Homo sapiens: one gene and its partners. The protein of the gene in region 2 purifies or fractionates together with the protein of the main gene of each other region. This does not show direct contact. Each region holds a gene or a part of one and is shown on either strand. Other genes may lie near its edges. The genes, in order: PTH2R, AASS, SLC2A12, ACADM and ADGRG5.

Evidence for each region.
Region 1: the proteins of AASS (region 2) and PTH2R purify together in Homo sapiens (co-immunoprecipitation; one large-scale study listed by IntAct). This does not show direct contact.
Region 3: the proteins of AASS (region 2) and SLC2A12 purify together in Homo sapiens (co-immunoprecipitation; one large-scale study listed by IntAct). This does not show direct contact.
Region 4: the proteins of AASS (region 2) and ACADM fractionate together in Homo sapiens (co-fractionation; one large-scale study listed by BioGRID). This does not show direct contact.
Region 5: the proteins of AASS (region 2) and ADGRG5 purify together in Homo sapiens (co-immunoprecipitation; one large-scale study listed by IntAct). This does not show direct contact.

Annotation. Positions count from the first base shown.
Region 1 is NC_000002.12:208,489,841-208,494,534, forward strand, and holds the end of PTH2R (parathyroid hormone 2 receptor isoform 1 precursor), read left to right. Parts: intron 1-798; coding exon 799-840; exon of another isoform or gene 841-945; intron 946-3,423; coding exon 3,424-3,819; 3' UTR 3,820-4,666; downstream 4,667-4,694. UniProt on the Homo sapiens protein: This is a specific receptor for parathyroid hormone. The activity of this receptor is mediated by G proteins which activate adenylyl cyclase. PTH2R may be responsible for PTH effects in a number of physiological systems.
Region 2 is NC_000007.14:122,112,499-122,117,192, reverse strand, and holds part of AASS (alpha-aminoadipic semialdehyde synthase, mitochondrial), read left to right. Parts: intron 1-235; coding exon 236-314; intron 315-432; coding exon 433-560; intron 561-1,970; coding exon 1,971-2,119; intron 2,120-3,472; coding exon 3,473-3,595; intron 3,596-3,963; coding exon 3,964-4,075; intron 4,076-4,694. UniProt on the Homo sapiens protein: Bifunctional enzyme that catalyzes the first two steps in lysine degradation.
Region 3 is NC_000006.12:134,049,077-134,054,512, forward strand, and holds the start of SLC2A12 (solute carrier family 2, facilitated glucose transporter member 12), read right to left. Parts: upstream 3,549-5,436; 5' UTR 3,405-3,548; coding exon 3,302-3,404; intron 1-3,301. UniProt on the Homo sapiens protein: Insulin-independent facilitative glucose transporter.
Region 4 is NC_000001.11:75,751,841-75,756,534, forward strand, and holds part of ACADM (medium-chain specific acyl-CoA dehydrogenase, mitochondrial isoform a precursor), read left to right. Parts: intron 1-4,694. UniProt on the Homo sapiens protein: Medium-chain specific acyl-CoA dehydrogenase is one of the acyl-CoA dehydrogenases that catalyze the first step of mitochondrial fatty acid beta-oxidation, an aerobic process breaking down fatty acids into acetyl-CoA and allowing the production of energy from fats.
Region 5 is NC_000016.10:57,548,775-57,553,468, reverse strand, and holds part of ADGRG5 (adhesion G-protein coupled receptor G5 isoform 1 precursor), read right to left. Parts: intron 1-4,694. UniProt on the Homo sapiens protein: Orphan adhesion G-protein coupled receptor (aGPCR). Ligand binding causes a conformation change that triggers signaling via guanine nucleotide-binding proteins (G proteins) and modulates the activity of downstream effectors, such as adenylate cyclase.

The DNA of each region.
Region 1 (4,694 bases), on a different chromosome or scaffold from region 2:
AATATTGCTTCCATACGTTCTGTTGCTTAAGTTCACCTCTGCCTCTAGGGCTCACACTTGTATTCCTTTTGCCTGGACTGCTTTTTCCCCAAATATTTACACAGCTGGCTACTTGTTCTTGTCACTCAAACACACTTGAGTATCACTCTCAGAGATACTTTGTTGAGTTCCTCATCTAATACATCCACTACATTACTCTTTTTAAAATCACTCATTTCTTTTCTTGCATAACCCTTCTCATTTTGCATTTTTCTCATGTGCTATTTGTTTATATTTTATCCATGTCTCTTCCTTTCTAGAACAGGGAACTTGTCTGTTTTGTTTACATTGTTTATCCCTGCCCCTGTCATGCTGAACAGCTACCACACTGCATAAGCTCAGTAAATATTTTTGAATGAACGAAATAAAAGGTTTCTTTGTATTCTTACCATACAATACTTTATGTTTGTAGTTTTCAGCATTTACAGCTTATAACTTCCTCTTACCAAGCAGAGGATAGGTATTATGTGATCCATGGGTCACAACATAAATGAAACTAATAGGATAGAAACCTATTCCTTGTGTATCTTGGAATGCTTTATTTAGTGACTTATTTGGTTCAGCTGACACCAAGGAAAGACGTCAAACAAATTTAATGTAAACATAAGGATTTGGAAACACTAGGAGAGAATAATTTGTATATAATTCTCTGAAGGAATCATAAAAAACAATTTTTGGACGTACACATTTTGGCACAAGATGCTTAAGTGCTGTGAGTTTCTGAGTTGGCAGTGGGCTGACTTTCTCTTTTGTCTGCAGGGTTTCTTTGTGTCTATCATCTACTGCTACTGCAATGGAGAGGTAGGTTTGTAGGAACCTTGGACAGGTCTCGCTTCAGCTTGTAAATGGCCATCACAATGTATCCTGAATCTCTTTAGAATTTCCAGGATTTCCAGGATGGAATGGGTGAGGAGAAGGAAGCTATTTTAATCATAAATTATTTTGGAAAAGAAAGAATTAGTGCAAATAACCTAAAGTCTTCCTCTTCTAGCACTTTTAAATGTGAACTCATCTGTACACTCTGACATTAAAAAGCAACTTGTTGGAATACAAACAGACACTTGGATGGACAGTGAACATCATATTCTGGTTAATACTTAAACTTCTATTCCATTTTAAGTTCTGTACAAAACTTATTAGTTTCCCTGGGACAAATTCATTCAAATATTTTGATGTTTTTTGAACTATAAGATGATGATGGGACAATTTTAGTTCATTTAGGAGTTGGCTGGAGAGAAGTAACTACACTAGATAATAATACATTTTACCTTGTAACTTTTAATATGCCCTGCTGTTGGATGAGCTGCCATGTTTCTTCTCTCAAATTTTAAGCTTGCTGCAGGCCCCAGAAGTGCACAGATACTTTTATTGCGGTACACCAGCTGATGCTTCTGACCATGTTTAGGGTTTGGACATTGTGGCATGCTAGTCCAGTGCTTGCAGAAAGAGCTTAAATTAATTTCCTGACTTACTTGTGTATTGTTCTTACCTTATTTTGCAGGAGGGGTAAGTAGGTCAGTTTAAGAGTTAAAGAAAGAGGAAAGAAACCCAAAAAGCACTCAACAGTCAAAGATGGGTTTATTTAGGAGAATAAACCTGGGAGGGGCTTCTGGCCAAGTTAGGTCAGAGAGCCTTCTCTCTTACAGACTAAGAGTTTTTAAGGGTTCAGGGTGGGAGAGCTTATCACAGGCTTGGACTGCTTCTGTATCTCTTTGTCTTGCTTATCTGGGAGGGAGAATTTTTGTGTTTTATCCATACATCTTCCTGCAGCTGCAGGCACAGCCCCTCCTACCCCCCGCCCCCCAAGTCTGCTTTTAGCTTCCATATCTTGGTGCACCTAAAGGGAAAGGAATGTATTTATTAGGACCCACTGTTTTACTGGGGTCCATTGTAGACTGTGAAGTTTTGTGGTTACCCAAGAGACTTTCTCCACTTCCTCTGTGCCCGAGCTGTCTTATCAGTGTTTTATACTGTCTGCTCTTTCTGGCTGCTTGTTGTTAGAAGGGAAGTGATTTCCTCAAAATGCATGAGGTTAGAAAGGGAGCTGGACTTAAAGTGGTGGTGTTTATCCAAGATGATGGTGCTTCTGCTCTGTCAGTCAGGTGTTGATTTGTTTTTGCCAAGATGAACAGATAGAAGTTTGTTGTTTCAGGTGACATCAGCATACTGGATTTCCACTGCTTCCCATGGAACTTCCAAATAAACTCTCTTCTGAAAAGTGGCAATTGAAGTAGAAATGAATCTTCAGTAGTAGGAATGGAAATAAGAGCCCCACCCTATTAAGAATGCATTTGCAGTGCCTGCTTTTCTATCCACGAGCCTTCTTTTCTCACTCTGACTCCTTTAGGCTGCCGATGCAGATTGATAGCATGACAGTTACATTTCAAATTGAGTACCTTCTACGCCATTCCTCAGCCTCAGCTGGTGCCAAAGACATCAGCAATTTAAGTGGTGAAAACAGATTTTATTCAGTAACTACTGACAGCAGGGGAAAGAGCTGAGCCCAATTCCACTTCACACAGAAGTGATTTGGGCATTTTAAAGGGAGAATGAGGGAGGTGGAGTGTAAGGGCTCAGTAGAGTCAAAGAAGTGAAAAAATATTTGGTCAGTATAAACACGTTTAGGCCAGCTGTGCTAGCAATCAGGCAGTTATTTAAGATAGAATTCTATCTTCCCACAGAGACTGGGAGACAAGAGGCCTTATCCCTCTTGATTTTTATATTTTGAAGGGATGGCTCTCAGGTCCTTGAGAGAGATGCTTCTGAGTTAGAAGAGCTACATATTTACAATTGTGAACCTTTTTAGTAAATGCCCTAAGAAAGGGGAGTCATGGGCCTATCATCAGGTGTGTGCTGGCTAGAGCAAATAGTAAATTCTCCTGGCAGCACTGAGCTTTCTCAGGCAGGCACTATCAATGGCTGAGATCATCCTAGGGATGCCACCTTGTGCTGCTAGAACCATGCTTGAGTTTGGGCAGGTCTCAGTGCAGGGGTTCCAGTGGGCTTGTCATGTGCCACGCGAGAGTTCTGAAGTTCTCACTGGCAATGTTTATCTTGAGTTTCTCTTCCAACCCAGAATCTCCTTTTTTTCCTCTCCCATATGTCAGGTATTTCTATGGGCTGCATTTAAACTTCTGTTTAAAGTCTGATCTTGGACAAGTCCCTTCACCTCTCTCTAAGCTTCAATTTGCTCACCTCCAAAACTAACACCTGTCTTGAAGGTTTTTTGAGGTTGAGAGAAAGTCATAGATAAAGTCCCTGGCACGTAGAGGAACCTCAATCAATGATTATTGCTGTCATTGAAATCAAGGCAAACATCTTTGTAACAAGGCTGCAGGGTCTCCTTTAGGATTTCTCATGCACAGCATGTTTCTCGTGGCTTAGGTTCAGGCAGAGGTGAAGAAGATGTGGAGTCGGTGGAACCTCTCCGTGGACTGGAAAAGGACACCGCCATGTGGCAGCCGCAGATGCGGCTCAGTGCTCACCACCGTGACGCACAGCACCAGCAGCCAGTCACAGGTGGCGGCCAGCACACGCATGGTGCTTATCTCTGGCAAAGCTGCCAAGATCGCCAGCAGACAGCCTGACAGCCACATCACTTTACCTGGCTATGTCTGGAGTAACTCAGAGCAGGACTGCCTGCCACACTCTTTCCACGAGGAGACCAAGGAAGATAGTGGGAGGCAGGGAGATGATATTCTAATGGAGAAGCCTTCCAGGCCTATGGAATCTAACCCAGACACTGAAGGATGCCAAGGAGAAACTGAGGATGTTCTCTGAATGGACATTTGTGGCTGACTTTCATGGGCTGGTCCAATGGCTGGTTGTGTGAGAGGGCTTGGCTGATACTCCTATGCTTGAGTTCAAAGGCTGAAAATTCAGTTAAGGTGTTACTTAATAATAGTTTTTAGGCTCCATGAATTGGCTCCTGTAAATACTAACGACATGAAAATGCAAGTGTCAATGGAGTAGTTTATTACCTTCTATTGGCATCAAGTTTTCCTCTAAATTAATGTATGGTATTTGCTCTGTGATTGTTCATTTTTTTCTGCTACTTTTGGGTAGAAAAAAGATTCAATTGCTTGGCTGTAGCTTTCTCTCATATATATCACCCTAAATATAATGAAGATCTTTTAGTGTGTATCATTTTCCTTTTAGAAACTAGTATTCTCTTATTTCTTACTTTAATGTACTTCTATCACTGCATTTATTTTGCCTGTGCATAGGAGCAATTAGGATCTAAAAAAATATATGGGAAGATAAAAGATCTAAGAACAAGTACTTGCTGGAAAATTAGTTGGCTGGACATTGATAAAATAATGCATTTATAACAATTACATGTGTTTCTGGGAACAAGGAAAATTTCTCAAAAAAGAATATTTCACACATCCCTTCTTTTGAATGGCCTCTTTGTGACCAGCCAGACCTCAGGTCTTCACTCTTTCTTCTTTGTAAACTATGTCATGTGGAAAGATTTCCTCAGTTAGTGAGCTTGTGTCTGCAAATTGATTTTGTTTGTAATGTATTTTGATAGCAAATCATGCTGCATCTATATCTTTTTCTTGTTTGAGCTGTTACTACATTGTACATGGCATGTGGGATCAATTAAAAATTTGTTTTAAAAATACATTTTGGATCACTTTTTAAAATTTTTC
Region 2 (4,694 bases):
TAAGTAAAAAAGAAAAAAATTAAAGCCCTTTCTAAGTGTGCTGTTCTAACAGGAATAAAAGCTAGCTAGCAGGCTGGTTGTAAGCAACTCATCTGTATTTCTGTGTTGCAGTCCTGGTTGTAGGGAAGGCAAGTGGAGCTATGTAATTGTTGGGAAAATGATCAGATCTTTGCAGAAAACCATGTTGGTTCTTTTTCTATTGATTTTTGGATTTTTACTCATGTGTTATTTGTAGGGAGCCCAAGCAATCTTTAATGAGCTACCTTGTGAATATGTGGAGCCCCATGAATTAAAAGAAGTTTCCCAAACTGGAGGTAAGGGACAGGAGATGACTAACTTTTAATGTTTTTAACAGTCTATGTTATAATATTTTATCACCATAAATTTTTATTATTTGTCACCCACTTTACTAATTTCTTTCTCCTTTTCAAGACCTCAGAAAAGTGTATGGGACGGTGTTAAGTCGTCATCATCATCTTGTCAGGAAAACAGATGCTGTGTATGATCCTGCAGAGTATGACAAACATCCGGAGCGCTACATAAGTCGTTTTAATACTGATGTGAGTATCATATTCACCTTTTAAGTTGGTTGCTTATGATACAGTGTAGGTAGGCTATTTTCAAGGAGAGAAATTATGAATTGTACAATGGCTTTCAGTTTTCCTGTTGTGAGTCCTTTGGGTATCATGATTTGGCCTTTGGAGCTATCATCTTTTATGGTATTTGGAGTAGTCTCGCTTAGTGCTTTTGGTGGTTTCTGTGGATACACTCTTTGTTTCACTGTCTCCATTTCTGCTTCAGGTCTACATGTGCCCAATAGCGCTAAGCCATTTCCTGTGCGTTACTGTTTTCTGTATTTATCCTGGACTAGTTAGCACTGTGGGCAGAGCATAATGCCTATGACGTTTGGTCTCAACATGGCCGCAAATTGCAACCATAATCTCAGCCAGCAATCTTGAAATGCATGCCATTGATTATCAGGGTGAGGGTTAAATAGCGTTCCTATATAAGTGCAGACCATCCCCACTGAATGAAAAAGCTATTACACTTACAAATCAAATCCTTCGATGCGACACACATCTTATAAGAAATAAAATATATTTGTGTGCTCTATAGTCATTGGCCATGCAACATTCTTCCCCCAGATAAACTAACAAACCAAAAAATACATAAAACAAAAAATGCATGCATTTATTGTGAAAAAGAATGCTTTAAATAATTTTAAATATGTTTGACCAACATAACATTTTCAGATTCTGGTATGAAGTTTAGCCCTTATATCGTGCAGGGCATGTTAGGGAAAAGAATTCTTACCTTCAGCTTGAGATGTTTGAAGAAGAAAAATTATGAACATAGTTTCAAACTGAAAAATTTGGAATCTAAGAAATCTTTATTCCTTCTCATTTCCCCAATCACAGAAGTATTGGTGATTGGATGCATCCTAAAACTGATACTGACCTAGTTGCCATGTATGCATGTATGTAGCACATTGCTCCATAGAGCTTACAGATGTTATCCGATTTAATCTTCACAGCATTCCTTTGAGGAATGGGGTGCGTATTATCCCCATCTGGCAAGTAAGAAAAATAGAGCCCAGGGAAGTTGAGGTAGCATGATTTAGGTCATACCCTACTGATATTAGAGCTGGAAATATAATTTTAGGTCCACCGTTTTTTGTTTGTTTTGTTTTTGTCCTTTCATTTTTCTTCGGCATGCAATACATTATAGAATGAACACACTAATGTATTTATAGTCATATATTTCTCTATCATAGGGTAATTCTATACTGAAATCTGGGTGGCTATTTAATATCTTTGCCTCAAAAGATGGACACTGACATGGACAATAAGAAAATCAATTAGAAGTTACATTTAATTATTTCTCATAGAATTTACTGATAGCTTTCTTTCAGTATACTGTATTAAAATAGGCTATTTTCTATTTTCTTGAACCTGGAACTTGCATTACAGATTGCACCCTATACAACTTGCTTAATTAATGGAATCTACTGGGAACAAAACACTCCTCGCCTCCTAACCCGCCAAGATGCTCAGAGTCTCCTGGCTCCGGGCAAGTTCTCACCTGCTGGTGTGGAAGGCTGCCCTGCATTACCACACAAGTAAGGACTCTACTTCAGCAACGATAGTAGTTTTGACCAGCTGCTTCCATTATTAGAGGATCAAATATCACATATCAGAGGACTTGATTTCTAATGACTACTTCTCTGCCTTATCTTTCTTGACCTCTTGGCAGTACTCAACACTGTTAACCATCTCTCCTTTTTTTTTTAAAATTTTATTGTATATATTTATCTTTAGAGATGGGGTCTTGTTATGTTTCCCAGGCTGGTCTAAATCTCTGGACCCCAAGCAGACCTCCTGCCTTGGCTTCCCAAGGTACTGGGATTATAGGCATGAGCCACCATGCCCAGCCCACCTCCACTTCTTGAAACATTCTTCTTTTGTCTTCTGTGATGCCCCATGCAGCTCTGAAGCTATTTGCTCAGAGAAGTCTTCTCTTGTTTCTCCATTCTCATCTCTATCTCTAGTCTGTTACTCTGTTTTTTGTTTTGAAATTCCTCATTTATTTTCTCGTGTTTATGATTTTTCTCCCTCTTCCTAGAACTTAATCTCCTTGAGGATAGGGGGTCTCTTTCTCTTGGCCACAAGCACCTAGTACGTTGCCTGATATATAATAGGCATTGAAATAATTATTAAATATTGAATTAATTAATTAATATTTGTGGAAGAGTAAAAGATATGTCTGCTTTTCTAGGCATGTAACTGGCATCAAGTAAATGCCAAGGGAATGCTAGGAGCAACAACATCACCAGGGTTTAGAAGAAAGCAGAAGCATTGGGCGCAGCAAACCTTAAAGGGAGGAATGAGGAGAACAAGAATTCCAAGTGAAAGGATTGGTGCTTAATAAATATGGAGCTACCAAAGCATATTTAGGGTGCTGAATGTGTCAGTCTAGCTCTACATTGGTTCATGTATGCAAGTGGTAATTGGAGATTGGGCAGAAAAATTGTAGTCAACTTTTTGAATGCTGGACTGAAACTTTTGTTCGTAATTCTAGAGATTTATGTGTAACCACATGTAAAACTATACAGTACTAAGCAGGGTGGAGGTAGCATAATTGAACCTTTCTGAGTTATTTAGAGATAACTATGTTAACTTTAGTCTGTTAATGATTTCTCTAGGAAAGCAATTTTCTGCGTTTGTTTCCTTTTTTCTTTTCTTTCTTTCTTTCTTTTTTTTTTTTTTTTTGGAGACTAAAATTCATACTGGGAAGATTCTCTGTATCACAGAACAGTGCAGAGTCCTGAAGAATGAGCTATAGGAAAAAGACCCCAAAAGCCTGGAAAATATTTGGGATCCACATTGAAAATTGTTCCAAACTCCTTTTTTTTTAGTCTTGTTGGAGACTTCAGAATTTCATCCTCTCATCTAAGTATTGATGTTATTTTCAGACTCGTGGCAATATGTGACATTTCAGCTGACACAGGAGGGTCTATAGAGTTTATGACTGAGTGTACAACAATAGAGCATCCCTTTTGCATGTATGATGCAGACCAGCATATTATTCATGACAGGTGAGTTTGCTAAAGTTGTTAGATGATATTCCTCACTTAGTTACATTGATATACTACTCTAAAATTCTCAGTATTTTACATCTTTATGAAGTTATGAAAATTTGGAGAGATATACTCAAACATACTAAAATTTGGGGAAAAAAACATGCACATTTGAACACACACACATACACAAATATATTTAAATGTGAGATGGGTTGCTGAAGAAGGAAAACGTTTTGTTTGAAAAGTTTTGTTTATTTTCGCGTATACTTTTATACAAAATTACAAATGATAATGAAGCAAATATAGTGGAGTAGACATCTGGAAAAGTCAGAACTTACAAATAATGTTTTGTGCTTCTGAATAAACCACATTGCTGCTTTTAGTGTTGAAGGCTCGGGGATCCTGATGTGTTCCATTGACAATTTGCCGGCACAGCTCCCAATTGAAGCTACAGAATGCTTTGGAGACATGCTTTACCCTTATGTTGAAGAAATGGTAAGCAGACTGGTAATATCAGTAACAACTCTGTGGCTTTAAATTGAATAATTGAGTAATTCTGTGAATGTTCTGGTCTTCTGTATCTAAGAAATCTGCTGTAAAATGAAATGCCAGCCCTTCCCTGAAATACTTACTGATACTATTTTATTTGACATATTCTGCTTACTTGTCTCTTGGGGTATAGGATGATATCACTGCCTTCATGCTTAATTACAATTACATCTCTTTCCCATTATAGGTCTTTTATTAAGAATGTTCACCACGTGTGAGATAAAACATGCTTTATTTTTAATTTTTTGCCATCTATGTCAGTTCATATTGGGGCACTCTTATTGTGCCGTAATAACCAGGTCTGAAAAATTAGAAATATAGAACATTTTTATTGGGTTCTGGTCACTAATAGTTAAGTGACAGCTTATGTTGAGGTCATGTATTTTTCTTCTGTGATCATTGATTAGCTAATGAAATACCATGTTATCTAAATTCCATTTTCTTTATCAAAGAAAATTTTTCTTATTTCAGTTTTTATCCTAAGCATTCATAGCCTTCCTGCTTTATTTTTATTTCAGACTGTCTGCCTCTGCCAATGATTCCAATATAAAGAATGGCTCTTACT
Region 3 (5,436 bases), on a different chromosome or scaffold from region 2:
ATTTAGGAAAAAGGAGTTCACAGCTTTAAAAGCGTTTTGAGAACAACTGCCTTAGAATGTTCATCTGCTGAGCAGAAGCGTGTATTTCTTAAATTCCAGACTGTGGCATCTTCAGAGGGGATAAAGGACAGTCCTTTCAGCTGAGTTCGTGAGTCCCGTTCTTCATGTTCTGGGTCCCAGTGCCAGAGAGTTCTGCAGTGCTGACAACCTGCACTCATACAGTAAATATTGTTCTTGTTTTCTGAACCTTTGGACAGTTGGGGGTGAAGGGAAACTTAAGAGGACTCTGTCCCCAGCCAATTGTTTGGATCATGAAATAAAGGAAGCCTGGGAGCTGAAGTAGAAGTCAGTATTGAATCTCCTGGGCCAGAGGCCACCAGGGTCAGTTCTGCACCATCCTCTGTGTGACCGTGGGCCGATCACACATCTTTTGACCTCAGATTTCCCTTGTGTGAGTTGCTCCATCCGTCTAATATCTCACTTCATTTATATCTGTTGTCAACTCTAGGCACCAGAATTTCAAACTGAGCTTAATCCTGTCCTATATTAAGATGGATTGGAACATGTCCATGAAAGCTGAAAAAATTTACTAAAAATGTAACCACTTTGAGTCATAGCTTATTGAAAATGAATTAAGTTCATTAGCTTCTAGTCATTGGAACAAAGCATTCTTTTCAGTTAAAGAGGGTTAGTCAAGAAAGACCTACCAAAATTTTTCACTGTGCACAATAGCATCAAGGGAGTTCAACTGCAGACCTTAGGGGGTTGGTTTTGTTTTGTTTTTCAGTATCTCACATGATTTAATTACCTTGTCCTGAGTTATATAACTCATTCCTCTTTGTGCTTTGATTTTTCCATCTAGGAATGTAGAAAAGCTTGCTACCTTCAAATGCAGACATATTGTGATAATTGTTGAGCATAATTTAAATACTCTGAATGTCTTAAATGAAAACTATGGAAGTTGAAAATATGAAGAAGCCAAAAGGAGTATTTGACAAATATTACCTCATTAAATCTCAACACCTTCATAAAATAGATGAAGATACAATCCCAATATTAATGAATGGAGACTTTAAGTAACTTAAGAAAACCATACAGCAAGTCTGCACTATGCATTCATTTATACATATGTATGTATAATTGCTTTTGGGTGCCAAAAGATGTTTAAGATAAGTTAAGAAAATTTACAAAAGTAGAAAATAAAAGGTTTGCATTCATCTAAATGCAGATTATGTATAGCACAAATCAAAGTTGTATTCATCTGACATTTTAAGGAAACATTCAGGCTTTCTCTTCTACAAAATGAAAGTTAATTTAAAATTAAATTTGAAAGATAATTTATGGTACTTATTCATTTATTATTTCTTTACAACATAAACAGTTGCACTTTAAGTTGAATTTTGTGCATGTAACCAACTATTGCAAATGTAAATACACATTATCTTTCTTCTGGATAATTGTGAATTTGTACAATATAAGCTATTAAGAGCACATTGTACCTTCAAAGCCATATCAAAATAAACAGTCCATTTTTAATGGTTACTACAAAGGCTCTTCCTAGGCAGTTTCTTTTCATCTTCTTTGTGACATTATCACTGACTGTATTTAGTGAGCCCTTTTGTTAACATCACCACCTCAGCTTGCTCTGCAGTCTAGACTGCAGCTCATGTTCCCAGGAATTTGGAGAAAAGAACTTTGCAACTCTTTCCCTTTATCTCCAAATATAAGTTTCCCTTGCCTGCTCTTAGGGAACTTGTGGGCCAATGAGTAGCAAGCGCTTAGGGAAAAGGGTACTTCTGCATAGGAGAGGACAGGCCATATTGAAAGATGACCCCAGATATTCTTTTATTATTATTATTATTATTATGTTAGACAGAGTTTCACTCTGTCACCCAGGCTGGAGTGCAGTGTCATGATCTCAGCTCACTGTAACCTCCAAGTGATTCTTGTACCTCAGCCTCCTGAGTAGCTGAGATTACAGGCATGTGCCACTATGCTCAGCTAATTTTTTTATTTTTCTGTATTTTTAGTAGAGATAGGGTTTCCGCTCTGTTGGCCAGGCTTGTCTTGAACTCCTGGCCTCAAGTGATCTGCCCACCTTGGCCTCCCAAAGTGCTGAGATTACAGGCATGAGCCACCACGCCCGGCCTCATTCTTGACGAGAAGTGTGAAAGCAAGAGAAGAGATCAGGACATGGAAGATGGAGGGCTTCTCCACTCCTGAAGAGGGCCGCTTCATGCCTCGATGTTAGGGGTCACAGGTTCGATTCCCCAAGATCAGACAAACCCACAAGGCAAACGTCAGTATTAGGACCATTCCCAAGAGAAAGGCAGATGTCTTTTGTATCATTTAGTGTATTGGATTTTGCATGAAATTTCTATATGCTGCTTGGGAATGTAATATCTGATTAAGAATACACAGCTGAGGAAAGTAGTAGGAAAGAGAAGATTTTTTGTGTTTGTTGTCATTTCATATTACAATTACTTTCTATTCCTTGCAGCACAAACTAAATGAGCAGGAAGAGGCAGCAAAAAGCGTACAATGTATTTGTGGGAATTGTAAATGTGGAAGTGAAGACCAGCCTCTGATTTATCAAAGATCATTAAATGAATTAAAACTTTTCCAAATTTCACCTTCAGAAGGTCATCATAGCAAACAAACCTCAGTTTGCAAGGCCAGTTTTAAAGAAGGCAGAACCCAGCAAAGCAAGCGTTTCAGGCTCTGAATAACGCTCAAATTCATCACAAACGTGCTGGGAATTTAAAAAGGAAGTTTGTGTTCTCATTGATTACATAACTAATAATTTTATGAAGCCTGTTTAAAATACTGATTTTTAAAACAGTGGTTATAATGTCAACTGGTTACACAGTGTCCATTTGTGACAATAAATGAAAAAGTGTAAGCAAGCGTGTGCTTGTGTGTGTTTACAAATGAGACTATCTTTGCCAGTGGACCGTTCCAATATGAAAAACATCCATACATTGTATTATGTAAACACAATCAAGGGGACCCATCATACCAGTGGTGGATGTGTAACCTGTATTTTCTTGGCACATAAGGTTCCACCAAGACTTCGATCTTCACAACATTACAGCTCCGAGCTGTCCCACGTCCCACCAGACCCTGTCCCCTTCTCTCCACTCATCCAGCGCGCCCACATGCGCGCGCGCGCATACACACACACACACACACACACACACACACACACACACACACACACGGGACTCAAGAGACAGTACACTCGGGAGATGAGTACAGCTTGCTTCTCTGCGGTCACCCGAGCACTGCAGGCTCACTTTACCTCTCGCCCAGGGAGGATGCCGGCTGCCGCTGCCCTCCGTCTCCACGGCTGTCCCCTTCTGGTTCAGCAGACTGGGGCCCTCGGTGTTTTCAACAGGTACCATGGTCACGTAGAAGTTACAGCCGCTTCCCCGCCACCAAACCGCCCCGACCACCCCCGCTCCCAGGAGTGGTCACTTTCCCCATAATAGCATGCTAAAGAAGAGTGTGGGGAAAAACTTCGGGCAAAGCTAATGTGATTTGTGACCAACTTTGTTTCTATTTCCGAAGGCTTTGCCCTTTTCGGTGACACAGGCTGTTGCTATTCCAAGCAGCCTATCACAGGCAGGGGGAGGGCCGTGAGTCAGAGGATTGTTTTTGCCTTTAGATGCAGAGTTGGAAGCAAGGGGTTAAAAGAAAGGGAACTCAGACGGAGTGTTTGGCCATTAGCTAAGGGTAGCTCTTGTATTCTAGCACCTTTGAAAAGAGGCAGAGAAAGGAAACATGCAGATTTAAATGCAAGCTGAGAGTGGGGATAGAATACTCACAGATGGTATCAGTTAATCTTGCAGAAAGAGGAACAATTTATGCAAAGACATACCAGAAGGAAAAGTGTGTCAATTTTTCAGCAAGACTGTTATTCCAAAAGTCATGGTATTTACCAGCTTACACAAAGCATAAAATACCTTTATTGTTTCAACCTGATTTTGGTCTAGGTAAAGGCCTATATCTTTCTCTCCAAGGCCTTTCAGATAAATCACAGCCTGAGACCAAAAATACACAAACTCAGAATGCACAGATTCTTTAGACTTTTTATATGCTGAGGTTATAGCAAAGTAATCCATTTCTTAATGCAGAATTGTCTTTAAGAGACAAATTAACACTGAATCCTCTGTTAGGTTTCATGTTTGCGTAGGTAGGAGGAGGATACTCCTCACTCAGAGAGGCCAGACTAAGTGGCCCATTGTGTGCGTGTGGTGGACATGTAATCTCAAACAAAATCAGGTCATGAGAGAGGATCTTTTTCTGATTTGTGAACATATTTATAAAAAAGTCTTACAGGGTTATGACATTTTACCTTCAGTTATTCATTCAACAAATCATGTTTATTAAAAAAAAAAGCCTTATAGAGGAAATTGAGATCATCTTAAAAATCATTTGGAATAAAAACTAACATGTGTGGAGCACTTATGTGCCAGAAATTGTGCTAAGCGCAATAACGCAGATGATGACTTTGAGGCAGGTACCAACATTATAGAAGAGGAAATGGAGGTTGGGTAACTTGGCTACAGTCTCACAGCTAATCAGTGGTAGAGCTGAGATTATGAATCCAGGAGGTCTAAAGCTGTAACTCTCCTATATTCTAACTTCCCAGCCTTGTCCTTCTCTAATTTTCTTGGCTTCCTATGGTTTCAGACCTACTCGACTTTAAGAAGATGCCGTGAAATATGGCTTTTAGTCATAGGCATTTCTCTGGACAGAAAAACAAATTTGTGCTTGTATAAGCAGAAGCTAAATTTTTGTTACTTCTTTTCAACATTTTAACTGAATCACTTCAAAGTTCTAAATTCACTTATTTGTACATTTCCTTTGCTTGTCATTAAATAATTCTATATTTTTCTTATCTTTCAGGGAAACAGGTAGCAAATGGAAACAAACCTATAATAATTCAACTAGTCTTTATTATGTACCCGTTGTATGTCTGCTGATAGTGCTAGAAAATGGAAGTCCTCCAGGCATAATCCAGGCCCCTTATGATTAAGAGGGTGAGAAGTTCAGAATCCCACACATCAGTGTCCCCACTAAAGAATGTGTAACGCAACCATGGTTTGAAACAACTCATTTTATTTGTTCCCAGGGTGCATTATAATTATATAGGAGTCCCAGTTTCTATCTGTGAGACACATATGTTTCCCATAAGTTCTCTATATTCTCTTGGCTTCTAACTTCTTTCTGCTCAGAACCAATGACCTCATTAGGGGGAAAATGTTCTTGCAATGGGTTAGTTGTATCATTGCTTTGTTTCGTGATCCCACAACCTGTGTTTCTAGCAGCTTCTTGGCCCCATGGGAGTGTTAGAGTGTTTGCTATAGTGCTTGACTAGACAGAAGACAAAACTAATTCCAGAATACTTTACTATGGTTAAAAGCAGTTCAA
Region 4 (4,694 bases), on a different chromosome or scaffold from region 2:
AGTATCAGATAATTTTAGTACTATAAAGAGTCGTGTCTTCCATGAATTTCCAGGGTAATTCTTAACTCTTACCCCTTTAAATATTGATGCTCCCCCATTATCTGTATTCTTTCCTGCAACTCACTATGAGTTGTATAGTGAACCTCCTATTTCTCTTTTTTTTTTTTTTTGAGACAGGGTCTTGGTTGCCCAAATGCGAGTGCAATGGTGCAGTCATGGCTTATTGCAGCCTCTTGGGATCAAGCAATCCTCCCACCTCAGCCTCCTAAATAACTGGAACTATAGGGGCACACTACCATGCCTGCCTAATTTTTTTATTTTTGTAGAGATGAGGTCTCACTATGTTGCCCAGACTGGTCTCAAACACCTGAGCTCAAGCAATCTTTCCACCTCAGCCCCCCATGAGCCTCCTATTCCTATCTCCATTTGTCAGTGGTTCTCAAACTATTTGTGGTGAAAGACCAGTTTGTTTTAATTTCCAGTTAATGTGGACCATTATTTTTGTAAAATATAAGAATGTCACAACAATGTTAAATTGCTGTAAAAGTGTCTAAATGCTTATTCTCATCTTCTGTACCATCAACCAGTAACAGTTTGTGAATTGGCACTGTGGACAAACTTGGATTAGCACTGCTCTGTGTCCCTTAACCTTAGTTTCATAATGTATCTTTCTACACTATATTCTAGATAATTTTTTCAGATCTGCTTTCTAGTTCTCTTATCTTGTGCCTAATCTATTTAATCTGTTGATTTTTTATTAATGACTACTTTTCATTTCCAGAAGTTATATTTGGTTTTTTCCATTATACCTTCTGTTCAACATCATACCGCCTTTTCCTTTTTTCTCATTAATCATGTAAAAATTCTTCATTTATAATCAATTTCAGATTTTTTTGTTATCTTCAATTCTTTGGGTGCTAATCTTTCAAGGTGTATTGTGTCTTCTAACTCTTTTATGGTCAATTATTTTGCTTTTATTTTTTATTTGTAAACAACTTACCTGCAGGAAGTACTCTATTTCTCAGAGCATTATGGAAGCATTTTAGAAATTGGCTTTTGTACTTTTTTGGCACTTTTGTTAGGTACTCCAGAGATTTCACCATTCTAAGAGCTGTTATTTTACATTAATTTCTTGACTTGGAGAATCCTGTATCACAGAGCTCGTACATTGATCTCACACATTAAGAAACTCCGTACATTCCAGTCTGGGCAACAGTGTGAGACCCTGTCTCAAAACAACAACAATAACAAAAGTCCTTTTTTTTCTTGTTCTTTTTTTAACCCTCCTGGGCAAGAGATCAGCTTCTTTGTGGCCCTCCTATGCTGATGAGCCCAGACTTTTAATTGCCCCTTTGGAAAGCAAAGCTTTTACATGCAGTGATTCTCAGTTTTAGCCCCTTAGATTGTTCATGCTCACATCGAAATCTCCTGTTCTTATGTGTTTCTTAAAACTCTGGTTCCTATCCTGCTGAGCCCAAATCTGAGTCTGATTTTTCTTTTCCTCCATGTTATCTCTTCTCAGGATTTAAATTCCTTTTTAGAGGCACTTAGAGATTTCTGTTTCTTTCCTATGAGCTTTTTTTTTTTCTTAACCAAGTATTTCTTTGTTAACTCCTTCATGTTGCCAGAACTACATATGTACATTTTACTAAATGTTAGTTTATCTTATTCATAAACAAATTTCAACCTAATGCTTTTCAGTGAAGATCTGTCATCGTCTTCCAGGTCCTCCTTACCCAAGTATCTGATGATAACTGTATTTTTGGCTTTCAACTCAATATAGAATCTTCTCCTTTTATGTTCTCTTTCTTATAAATTCTAAAGATTTTTTTCTTATTAAATATTGAAAAATCTTAGTTTTTCCTTACTGCTTAACTCAAAATAGTCTTTTATCATTTGATTTCTACTGAAGATTTGCTTATCTTTTAAGCACTCTGCAAAATGCTGATAGCTTCTTTTTTTTTTTTTTTTTTTGAGACAGGGTCTCACTCTATTGCCCAGGCTGGAGTGCAATGGTGTGATCTCAGCTCACTGCAACCACTGCCTCCTGGCTTAAGTGATCCTCCTACCTTAGCCTCCTGAGTAGCTGGAACTATAGGTGTGAGCCACCATGCTCAGCTTTTTTTTTTTTTTTTTGTAGAAATGGGGTTTTGCCATGTTACCTAGGCTGGTCTCGAACTCCTGAGCTTGAGTAATCCGCCCATCTTGGTCTCCCAAAGTGCTGGGATTACAGGCATGAGTGACTGCGCCTGGCCTAGTTTTTCATTTTTAATTGGTAGGTACAGTGATATGACACTGTAATTCCTTGTCACTCCTTTGCTAGGTGTCTCTCAACCCATTTGTGTGCCCTTTGAAACTTCAGTTTTTTGTTTTTTTTTTTTTTTTGAGACGGAGTCTTACTCTGTTGCCCAGGCTGGAGTGCAGTGGTGCGATCTCTGCTCCCTGCAACCTCTGCCCCCGGGGTTCAAGTGATTCTCCTGCCTCAGCCTCCCGAGTAGCTGGGTTTACAGGTGCCCGCAACTGCACCCGGCTAATTTTCTTTTGTACTTTTAGTAGAGATGAGGTTTCACCATCTTGGCCAGGCTGGTCTTAAACTCCTGACCTTGTGATCCACCCACCTTGGCCTCCCAGTGTTGGGATTACAGGCGTGAGCCACCGTGTCCAGCCACTTGTCTTTCAGTCTGTGTACTCTATGTATAGCATTATGAATGAAAAGGGTCAGGTTATTCTTGGAATCCACAATTAAATAATTGTTTAGCCATTTCATGTGTGGTATTAGAAAATATACAATGATCTGCCCAAGGGTTCCAAGATGGCTGAATAGGAACAACTCCAGTCTACAGGTCCCAGCATGAGTGACACAGAAGACGGGTGATTTCTGCATTTCCAGCTGAGGTACCGGGTTCATCTCACTGGGATTTGTCGTACAGTGGGCGCAGCCCACAGAGCATGAGCCGAAGCAGGGCAGGTCATCACCTCACCCAGGAAGCGCAAGGGGTCGGGGAATTCCCTTTCCTAGCTAAGGGAAACTGTGACAGATGGTACCTGGAAAACTAGGACACTCCCACCCTAATACTGCGCTTTTCCAACAGTCTTAGCAAACAACACACCAGGAGATTATATCCTGCGCCTGGCTTGGAGGGTCCCACACCCATGGAACCTCACCCACTGCTAGCACAGCAGTCTGAGATGAAACTACAAGGCGGCAGCAAGGCTCAGGGAGGGGCATCCGCCATTGCTGAGGCTTGAGTAGGTAAACAAAGTGGCCGGGAAGCTCGAACTGGGTGGAGCCCACTGCAGCTCAAGGAGGCCTGCTTGTTGCTGTAGACTCCCCTCTGGGGGCAGGGCATAGCTGAACAAAAGGCAGCAGAAACTTCTGCAGACTTAAACCTCCCTGTCTGAAAGCTTTGAAGAGAGTAGTGGTCCTCCCAGAATGGAGTTTGAGATCTGAGAACAGACAGACTGCCTCCTCAAGTGGGTCCCTGACCCCTGAGTAGCCTAACTGGGAGAGACCTCCCAGTAGGGGCCGATTGACACCTCATACGTCCGGGTGCCCCTCTGAGACGAAGCTTCCAGAGGAACAATCAGGCAGCAATGTTTGTCATTCTGCAATATTTGCAGTTCTGCAGCCTCTGCTGGTGATACCCAGGCAAAGAGGGTCTGGAGTGGACCTCCAGCAAACTCCAACAGACCTGCAGCTGAGGGTCCTGACTGATAGAAGGAAAACTAACAAACAGAAAGGACATTCACACCAAAACCGCATCTGTACGTCACCATCACCAAAGACCAAAGGTAGATAAACCCACAAAGATGGGGAGAAACCAGAGCAGAAAAGCTGAAAATTCTACAAATCAAGAGTGCCTCTTCTCCTCCAAAGGAATGCAGCTCCTCGCCAGCAACGGAAGAAAGCTGGATGGAGAATGACGAGTTGAGAGAAGAAGGCTTCAGATGATTGGTAATAACAAACTTCTCCGAGCTAAAGGAGGATACTGGCAAACTGAATCCAGCAGCACATCAAAAAGCTTATCCACCACGATCAAGTCAGCTTTCTCCCTGGGATGCAAGGCTGATTCAACATACCTTGAATCAATAAATGTAATCCATCACATACAGAACCAACGACAAAAACTTATGATTATCTCAATAGATGCAGAAAAGGCCTTCAGCAAAATTCAACAGTTCTTCATGCTAAAAACTCAATAAACTAGGTATTGATGGAATGTATCTCAAAATAATAGCTATTTATGACAAACCCACAGCCAATATCATACTGAATGGGCAAAATCTGGAAGAATTCCCTTTGAAAACTGGCACAAGACAGGGATACCTTCTCTCACCACTCCTCTTCAACATAGTGTTGGAAGCTCTGGCCAGGGCAGTCAGGCAAGAGAAGGAAATAAAGGGTATTCAGTTAGGAAAAGAGGAAGTCAAATTGTCCCTGTTTGCACATGTCATGATTGTTTATTTAGAAAACCCCATCATATCATCCCAAAATCTCCTTAAGCAGATAAGCAACTTCAGCAAAGTCTCTGGATACAAAATCAATGTGCAAAAATCACAAGCATTCCTATACACCAACAACACACAGAGAGCCAAATCATGAGTGAACTCCCATTCACAATTGCTTCAAAGAGAATAAAATACCTAGGAATACAACTTACAAGGGATGTGAAGGACCTCTTCAAGGAGAACCA
Region 5 (4,694 bases), on a different chromosome or scaffold from region 2:
ACAAAGATGCAAAGATAATTCAATAGAGAAAGGATAATTGATTCAACAATTAGTGATGGAACAATTGGATATCTCATGCCAACAAAAAAGCCATCTTGAATCCATATCTTGAAGCACATACAAAATTTAACTCAGAATGGATCACAGATGCAAATAACAAGACTAAAACTGTACAGGTATACCTGGCTTTATTGCATTTTGCAAATCTTGTGGGTTTTTTTTACAAATTGAAGATTGCAGCAACCCTGCATCAAGGAAGTCTATCTGCACCATTTTTCCAATAGTAAGTGTTCACTTAATGGCTGGGTCCTGTTTTGGTAATTCTCATAATATTTCAAACTTTTTCATTATTATTATACCTGCTGTGGTGATCTGTGAACAGAGATCTTTGATGTTACTATTGTAATTGTTTTGGAGTACCACAAACTGCGCCCATATAAGATGGCAAACTTAACCAATAAATGTATGTGTTTTGACTGCTCCACCAACTAGCTGTTCCCCTGTCTCCCTCCCTCTTCTTGGGCCTCCCTATTCTCTAGGACACAACAATATCGAAATCAGAACAATGAATAACTCTACAATGGCCTCTTAAGTGTTCAAGTAGAAGAAAGAGTCACACATCTCTCATTTTAAATCAAAAGCTAGAAATTTTAAGCTCAGTGAGGAAGACACGTGAAAACCCAGATAAGCCAAAAGCGAGGCATCCTGCACCGAACAGTTCACAAAGTTATGAATGCAAAGGAAAAGCTCTTAAAGAAAATTTAAAGTGCTACTCCAGTGAACACATGAAGCAAAACAACCTTATTGCTGATATGGAGAAAGCTTCAGTGATCTGGATAGAAGATCAAACCAGCCCCCGGCCAACGTTCCCTTAAGCCAAAGCCTAGTTCAGAGCAAGGCCCTAACTCTTCAATTCTATGAAGGCCAAGGTGGGTGAGGAAGCTGAAAAAACGTGGAAGCTAGCAGAGGTTGGTTCATGAGGTTTCAGGAAAAAAGCCATCTCCATGACATAGCAGTACAAAGTGAAACAGCAAGTGCTGATGGAGAAGCAAGTTATCCACAAGAACTAGCTAACATCATGCATGAGGGTGGCCACATTAAACAACAGAATTTCAGTGTAGATGAAAGAGCCTCATATTGGAAGCGGATGCCATCTAAGAGTTTCATAGCCAGAGAGAAGAAATCAATGCCTGGTTTCAAAGCTTCAAAGGACAGGCTAACTCCCTTGTTAGCGGGTAATGCAGCTGGTGACTTTCAATGGAAGCCAATACTCATTTAACATCCTGAAAATCCTAGGTCTCTTAAGAGTTATGCTAAATCTATTCTGCCTGTGCTCTACAAATGGAATAACAAAGCCTGGATGATAGCAATCTATTTATAGCATAGTTTCCTGAATATTTTAAACCCACTGTTAAGACCTACTACTCAAAAAAAAAAAAAGATTTATTTCAAAATATTTCTGCTCATCGACAATGTACCTAGTCACCCAAGAGCTCTGATGGAGATGCACAAGGAGATCAATGTTGTTCTCGTGCTGCTAACACAACATCCATTCTGCAGCCCATGGATCAAGGAGTCATTTCGACCTTCAAGTCTTATTATTTAGGAAACAAATTTCATAAGGCTATAGCTGTCATAGATAGTGATTTCTCTGATGGATCAGGGCAAAGTAAATTGAAAATCTGGAAAAGATTCACCCTTCTAGATGCTGCAAGAACATGTGATTGTGATTCATGGGAAGAAGTCAAAATATCAACATTAACAGGAGTTTGGAAGAGGTTGATTCCATGCTTCATGGACGACTTTGAGGGGTTCAAAACTTCAGTGGGGAAAGTAATTACAGATGTGATTAGAATAGCAAGAGAACTAGAATTAGTAGTGGATCCTGAAGATGTGACTGAATTGCTGCAGTCTCATGATCAAACTTGAATGGATGGGGAGTCGCTTCTCATAGATGAACAATGAGTGGTTTTTTGAAATGGAATCTACTCCTGGTGAAGATATGGTGAACACTGTGGAAATGACAACAAAAGATTTAGAATATTAAATAAATGTAGTGGATAAAGCCCCTGCAGGGTTTGAGAGGACGGACTCCAATTTTGAATGAAGCTCTACCGTGAGTAAAATACTATCAAACAGCATCACATGCTACAGAAAAACATCTTATGAAAGGAAGAGTCAACTGATGTGGCAAACTTCACTGCTGTCTTAAGAAACAGCCAGCCACCCCAACCTTCAACCACCACCACCTTGATCAGCATCAAGGCAAGACTTTCCACCAGCAAAAAAGCGTGTGATTTGTTGAAGGCTCAGATAGATTGCTAGTACTTTTTAGCAATAAAGTGTCCTTTAACTAAGGTATGTACATTTTTAGACATAATGCTTTTGTACACTAAATAGACTACAGTATAATGTAAACATAACTTTTTTCATGTGTGAGACAGTCTCGCTCTGTTGCCCAGGCTGGAATGCAGTGGTGCGATCTCAGCTCACTGCAACCTCCGCCTCCACCTCACAGGTTCAAGTGATTCTCCTGCCTCAGCCTCCCAAGTAGATGGGATTACAGGCACACACCACCATGCTCGGCTAATTTTTGTATTTTTAGTAGAGATGGGGTTTCACCATGTTGGCCAGGATGGTCTCGATCTCCTGACCTCATGATCCGCCCGCCTCGGCCTCCCAAAGTGCTGGGATTACAGACATGAGCCACCGTGCCTGGCCGTAAGCATCACTTTTATATGCACTGGGAAACCAAACAATTTGTGTGACTCACTTTATTACCATATTTGCTTTACTGTGGTGGTCTAAAACCAAACCCACAATATCTCCAAGATATGCCTGTAAAACTCCTTGGAAAAAACAAAAAAGAAAATCCTTCTGACTTAGGTTATGCAAAGATTTCTTAGAAACAACACCAAAAACGTGATCCATGGCAACAACAACAACAAAAAACTGATAAGTTGAATTTCATCAAAATTAAAACTTCTGCTTTTTGAAAGTCATGGTTAGCAAAACGAGAAGATAAGCCACAGACTGGGAGAAAATATTTACAAACACATATCTGATGTTTTTAAAAAATTGTATCTGGACTACATAAAGAACTCTTACACAACTAATAAGAGGACAAACAACCCAATAAATATAGGAAAAGATTTGAACAATCACTATACCAATGAAGATGTATATAGATGGGCCGGGCGCGGTGGCTCATGCCTGTAATCCCAGCACTTTGGGAGGCCGAGGCGGGTGGGTCACCCAAGGTCAGGAGTTTGAAACCAGCCTGGCCAACATGGTGAAACCCCTGTCTCTACTAAAAATACAACAATTAGCCAGGTGTGGTAGCATGTGCCTGTAATCCTAGCTGCTCAAGAGTCTAAGGCAGGAGAATTGCTTCAACCCAGGAGGAGGAGGCTGCAGTGAGCTGAGATCATGCCACTGCATTTCAGCCTGGGTGACAGAGCTGGAACTACATGTTAAAAAAAAAAATGTATAGATGCAAATAAGCACATGAGAAACACTCAATATCATTAGTCATTAGAGAAATGCATATAAAAACCACAATCAGATATCACTACACACCTTCTAGAATGACTAGGATTAAAATGGTAATACAAAGTATTATGAGGATATAGAACAGCTGGAAGCCTCATTCATTTCTGGAGGGAATGTAACATGGAAGTGGAATCTAGAAAAGTCAAAACTATTGGATCAGAGAACAAATCAGTAGTTGCCAGGGAGTAGGGAAAAGATATTAACTACAAAAGGGCCTGAGACAACTTTTCAGGGGACAGCAATGTTCTATATTTTGATTGTAATATACATGTATACATGACTGTACACATCTGTCAAAATGCAAAAACTCCTCTCCAAAAGGGTGAATTTTATTGTATGTATACCTCTATAGACAAGACTTTAGAAATCCAATCAAAAAACATATTAAGAGGATGAAGAAGAGGAAATAGGGGAGGGAGGGCAAGAGAACTGATGATCCTCCTCTTAGAGAAAGGAAGTCAACAAAAACTTGCAAGGCTTCAAGAGGGAGAGCCACAAAACTCAAAATATGTGTTTGATGGTAGTGGCAGAGGAAAGTAGTTAAGAACATGAGTTCTCATTTTTCCACCATTGGATCTGCAAAGATCTGAAATATGATAGCACCCAGTGAGTCTGTAGGGACAGGCACATTCCTGCACTCTCTGTCTAAGATCTGAGCCTCATCTGCAAGGGGACGGCTTAGCAACACATTCGAACTTTACGTTCTGAATATCCTTTAAGCCAGGAAACTCATTCTTATGAATTTATCCTATGGAAAGAATAGGGCAAGCCAGGATTATACACATACAAGAATATTTAGAATAGTATTGTTAATAAAGAAAAGTTGAAAGCTATGTGAATGTCTATCAATAGAGGAATAAATAAATTACACTCCAATGCCATTCTGGAAAACAGTTCGACAGTTTCTTATAAAACTAAACATGTACCTATCATATGACCCAATAATTGCACTCTTGGGCTTTTATCCCAGAGAAATGAAACCTCGTGTTCACACAAAAACCTGTATATGAAGAGTCATAGCAGCTTTATTCATGATAGCCTCAAAGTGGGTGAAAATGGTTAAATGGTGATACCTTTACACTCTGAAATACAATTCTCAGCAGTTAAAAAAATGAATTTCTAAAAAAAAGCTACTGACACAC